Linked DNA regions of Homo sapiens: region 2 is linked to region 1. The links come from fine-mapping of genetic effects on gene expression. Tissue or cell type: whole blood. Region 1 holds a variant in brackets; the other region holds the start of a gene. All regions are shown on one strand. Distances are between the middles of the regions.

What was found. PIP is the estimated chance that this variant, and not a neighbour inherited with it, causes the effect.
Region 2: it holds the start of ADA, and the variant in region 1 is fine-mapped to the expression of ADA in whole blood (INTERVAL, PIP above 0.99).

The regions. Positions count from the first base shown.
Region 1 is chr20:44,672,972-44,675,724 of GRCh38, reverse strand. No RefSeq gene overlaps it. Among named protein-coding and RNA genes, the nearest start is that of LINC01260, 2.6 kb to the right of the region's middle. The variant G/A (reference allele first, on the strand shown) is at 1,335.
Region 2 is chr20:44,650,586-44,653,338 of GRCh38, reverse strand. It overlaps ADA (adenosine deaminase), which reads left to right and starts at 1,640. Exons shown (of 12, transcript NM_000022.4): 1 at 1,640-1,764. The coding sequence starts at 1,732. RefSeq lists a silencer at 1,442-1,831 and enhancers at 868-1,851, 2,082-2,191.

The DNA of each region.
Region 1 (2,753 bases):
ACTAATAAAGGCCAATCCGTTATCAGACTGTATAGAGGTGGGAAGGCCAAACTGAGGAATTATGTCTGACAGAAGGGAAGAAATGACCATGATGGCCTTCTCAGACCCTGTGGGAAAGGCCTCTACCCATCCAGTGAAAGTGTCTACCTAGACCAAGAGGTATTTTAGTTTCCTGACTCGGGACATGTGAGTAAAGTCAATTTGCCAGTCCTGGGCAGGGGCAAATCCCCAAGCTGGATGTGTAGGGAAGGGAGGGGGCCTGAACAATCCCTGAGGAGTAGTAGAATAGCAGATGGAACACTGAGAAGTGATTTCCTTGAGGATAGATTTCCATGATGGAAAGGAAATGAGAGGTTCTAAGAGTCGGGCTAGCGGCTTGTAACCTACATGGAAGAGGTTATGAAATGATGACAGAATAGAATGGGCCTGTGAGGCTGGAAGGAGATATTTTTCTTGGTCCAAGAACCATTTGCCTTGTGTGGGAAGATATTGATAGGTGGAAGTTTCAGCAGGAGAGTAGGTGGGAGTGACCCATGAGGAGGAGAAAAACTGTCTGTGAGGGACAGAAGTTGGAATGCTAGCTCTTTCTTTAGCTACCTTATCAGCATAAGCGTTGCCCTGAACGATGGGATCTGATGCCTTTTGGTGGCCCTTGCAGTGTATGACTCCAGTTTCCTTTGGAAGTAAAGCGGCCTTGAGAAGAGTTTTTATTAAAGAGGCAATAATGATGGAGGACCCTTGCGTAGTGAGGAAACCTCTTTCAGCCCATTTAACACCATGGTGGTGCAGGATATGGAAGGCATATTTAGAGTCAGTATAAATATTGATGCGTAGTGCGTAGTTCCTTTGCAAGAGTGAGGGCTCGAGTTAAGGCAATGAGTTCAGCTTGCTGAGAGGTAGTGGAGGTGGGCAGAGTGGTAGCCTCAATGATAGATGTGGAAGATACTATAGCATAGCCTGCCTTTGCTGGTGTGTGGCGATTAGGCCTAGTGGAACTGCCATCAATATACCAGGTGTGATCAGGGTGAGGAACAGGAAAGAAGGAAATGTGGGGAAATAGAGTGAATGTCAGGTGTATCATAGAGATACAGTCATGGGGGTCACGTGTGGTATCAGGAATAATGTGGGAGGCTGGATTGAAGTCCGGGCCAGGAACAATGGTAACTGTGGGAGACTCAACAAAGAGTGAGTACAGCTGAAGGAGCCGGGGAGCAGACAGTATATGTGTCAGGTGTGAGGAAGAAAATAGATTTTGGAAGTTATAAGAACTGTAGAGAGTGAGTTGAGCATAGTTTGTGATTTTGAGGGCCTCCAAAAGTATTAGGGCAGCAGCG[G/A]CCACCGCATGGAGACATGATAGCCAGCCTAAAACAGTAAGGTCAAGTTGTTTGGACAAAAAGCCTATAGGGTGCGGTCCCAGTCCTTGTGTACGAATTCCAACTGCACAGCCCTACACTTCGGCTGCGTGTAATGAAAAGGGTTGAGATGAGCCAGGGAGAGCTAGTGTGGGAGCAGTCTCTAAAACTGTCTTCAAGGAACAGAAAGAGGAGTGGGGAAAGGATTGAGAATCTATGGAGTCAGCTAGGTTTCCTTTTGTGAGTTTATACAATGGTTTTGTTAGGATGGCAAAACCAGGTATCCAAAGACAAAAGTATCCAACCACGCCCAGGAAGTAAAGGAGTTGTTGTTTTGTAGAAGGGCCTGGGGTTTGAGAGATCAGTCGGACACGATCCGCAGGGAGAGCGCATGTGTTGTTATGAAGAATTATGCTGAGGTAGGTAATGGATGGAGAAGAAATTTGAGCTTTGGACAGGGATACCCAATATCCCTTGGAGAATAAATGTTGAAGGAGCAGGAGGGTGTCTTGTTGAGAAGATTCAAAGGAGGGGCTACAAAGTAGAAGGTCATCAATATATTGAATAAGGCAAGAAGCAGAGGGGTGGAAAGAAAGTAAATCATAAGAAAGAGCTTGGCTGAAGTAATGAGGGCTGGCCCTGAAGCCTTGCGGCAGTACAGCCCAGGTAAGCTGCTGGGACTGATGGGTGTCAGGATCGGTCCAGGTAAAAGCAAAGAGAGGCTGGGACAAGGGGTGTAGGAGAATAGTGAAAAAAAGCATTTTAAAGATCAAGAATGGAATAGTGAGTTGTGGAGGAAGATATTGAGGACAAAAGAGCGTACGGGTTGGGCACCACAGGGTGGATAGGCAAAACAATTTGGTTGATAAGGCACAGATCCTGAACTAACCTGTAAGACTTGTCCGGTTTTTGAACAGGTAAAATGGGAGAATTGTAAGGAGAGTTTATAGGTTTTAGAAGCCCATGCTGTAGCAGGCAAGTGATAACAGGATTTAATCCCCTTAAAGCCTGTTGTGGGATGTGATACTGGCATTGAGTGGGGTAAGCGTGATTAGGTTTTAATGGGATAGTAATGGGCATGTGATTGGTTGCCAGGGAGGGAGTGGAGGTGTCCCATATTTGTGGGTTAAGGTCGGGGGATATGAGAGGAAGACCCAAAGGAGGCTTTGGGTTGGGAAGAAGGGGGCAATGAGATGTGGCTGTAGTACAGGAATAATCAGGGAAGCAGATAATTTGGTTAAAATGTCTCAGCCTAATAAGGAAGCTGGGCAGGTGGGGATAACTGAAAAAGAGTGCATAAAAGAACGTTGTCCAAGTTGGCACCAGAGTGGGGGAGTTTTAAGGGGTTTTGAAGCTTGGCCATCAATACCCACAACAGTTATGGGGGCGAGGGAAACAGGC
Region 2 (2,753 bases), 22 kb after region 1:
GAAGCTACCATCCACCCCAGTACTGGAACATTATCAATAACCTGTGTGTGGCCAGGCGTGGTGGCTCATGCCTGTAATCACGCCTTGGGAAGCCGAGGTGGGTGGATCATGTGAGGTCAGGTGTTCGAGACCAGCCTGGCCAACATGGTGAAACCCCGTCTCTACTACAAATCCAAAACTTAGCAGGGCACGGTGCCACGCGCCTGTAATCCCAGCTACTCGGGACGCTGAGGCCGAGAACTGCTTAAAATCCAGGAGGTGGAGGTTGCAGTGAGCCGAGATTTCGCCACTGCACTCCAGCCTGGGCGACAGAGCAAGAGTCCATCTCAAAAAAACAAAAACAAAAACAAAAAAACAAAAAACAAAAATTAGCCAGGCGTGGTTGTGGGCGCCTATAATCCCAGCTACTCGGGAGGCTGAGACAGGAAAATCGCTTGAAACGCTGGGGGTGCGGGGGAGCGGTGGGGAGGAGGCGGGCCAGAGGGGCAGAGGTTGCAGTGAGCCCAGATCGCGCCACTTCACTGCAGCCTCCGCGAAAGAGCGAAACTCCGTCTCAGTAAATAAATAAATAAATAAATAAATAAATAAATAAATAAATAAATAACCTGTACCCGCGTGTTATTTCCCTCCGTCCTTACCTCCTCCCGGCTCCTTCCCTTTCACCTGAGATAACCACTCTTCTCGTATCTATGCTCATCTTTCCCTTGCTTTACATTTTTTCCACCGATGCATGTGTCTAAACATACATACTTTTGGTTTTGCTTTTACACATTCTAAAAGTTGCACCATTGTATGCAGTTTTCCGCAACTTAGTTTTTTTCACTCAACATTGTTTCTGAGACATTGTTTCTGTTGTTGTCTGGCTGAAGTTCATTCCGTTTCACTGCTGTCTAACGTTTCATGGTGTGAATATTCCGGTTTATTTGCCCACTCGCCCGTGGAGGGGCATTTGAGGGTGTTTCCAATGTTCCTGTTATTCGGAATAGCGCTGGTGTGAACATTCTGCACAGGTCTCTGGCTGCGCCTGGGCGGGTTTCTTAAAGGTGAATGCCCAGGAGGGGACTGTCTGTGTTCTCCCTCCCTCCGAGCTCCAGCCTTCCTCGCCTCCTTTCACTCCCAGCTCCCTGGAGTCTCTCACGTAGAATGTCCTCTCCACCCCCACCCACCCCTGATGAACTCCTGCAGGTTCTGCAGGCCACGGCTGGCCCCCCTCGAAAGTTCCTTAACTATACAATTATGGTGTGTGTTTCTGCGACGAGCGTCCGTCTATCCGGTGGAAGGCACGCCGCTCGAGGCTTGCGATGCTCCCGGGGTCCCCGCTTCTAGCTTGGGCCTGGCGCACAGCAGCGCCCAGACTGCAGGGGGACGCTTGAAAGTTGCTGGAGGAGCCGGGGGGAAGGCAGCGCCCAGCGAGGCGGCTGGAGCGCGCGCCCACAGGTGGGTCCGGTCGGGCGCCGCGGGGCCGTAGTTTTCGGGTCGGCGGGCGAGGACGCCGGGTCCAGAATTCCAGGAAATGCGCGATCCAGGCCGGCGGGCGGGGCGGGGGCTCCGGCGAGAGGGCGGGCCCCGGGAACGGCGGCGGGCGGGGCGGGAGGCGGGGCCCGGCCCGTTAAGAAGAGCGTGGCCGGCCGCGGCCACCGCTGGCCCCAGGGAAAGCCGAGCGGCCACCGAGCCGGCAGAGACCCACCGAGCGGCGGCGGAGGGAGCAGCGCCGGGGCGCACGAGGGCACCATGGCCCAGACGCCCGCCTTCGACAAGCCCAAAGTGAGCGCGCGCGGGGGCTCCGGGGACGGGGGTCCGGCGCCTGGGCGGCCCGAGGGGCTTAGCGGGGCCCAGCCCGGGGCGTCCAAACCCTGGGAACGAACGGGGGCTCCTGCAGGCGAGTTCTTCCTTCGGCTTAGGCCGTGGCTTGCTTGCGGGCTAATCAGGGACAATGGGGCAGAGAAGGTCCAGAACCCGGAGGCCTCCAGAGTCTGCTTCTGCCCCTGACTTGACCCCTCTGGGTCTCAGTTTCGCTGTCTGTCAAGTGGGCATCCTAGCACCGCTGAGCGCTGTGTGGGCCTGGGCAGGGACTTGAGGTCTCTGAAGCTCAGCTGTATGATCAGGCCCGATGTCTACGCCGGATAGGCACCTAGTGCTGTGCCCGGCGCCTACTGAGTGCTCAGTGAATGGAAGCAGCTTTGTACGCCAGCGTTATGGTGGTGAGCGCCAAGGAGCTCAGGTTTGTGGATGCGCCCCGGGGAAGAACCGTGAGCCCTGCCAGAAAGGGGAGGGAGGGGAGCAGAGCACCCCCCTTCCCCCGCGCGGGAAGAACAGGAGCTAGGTAGGCCCTGGGTTTGGGGCCCTAGCAGGGTTCACTCGAGGCCAAGCCATGGCCACTGGCCCCAGGGGAGAATCCCCTTGTTTCTCCGCCCACCAGCTGTGGCGTCTTGGGACTGTTGGGGTCAGGGAGGGTCTGGACCCCCTTGGCCTGTCGCAGAGTCCGAGAGGAGGGGCCCAGGAGTCTGCCAAGCAGGGTGAGTCAGCCAGTAGGGTGTGAGAGTGGTTGGGGAAGGAGTCAGCTGCAGTCAGCCTCAACTTACCCTTCTAAGAAATAGGTGTGAGTGGCCCAGGAGGTTGGCTCACGCCTGTAATCCCAGCACTTTGTGAGGCTGAGGCGGGAGGATCATTTGAGTCCAGGAGTTTGAGACTAGCCTGGACAACAAAACTAGACCCCGTCTCTCCAAAAAATAAAAAAAGTTAGGGGAAGTGTG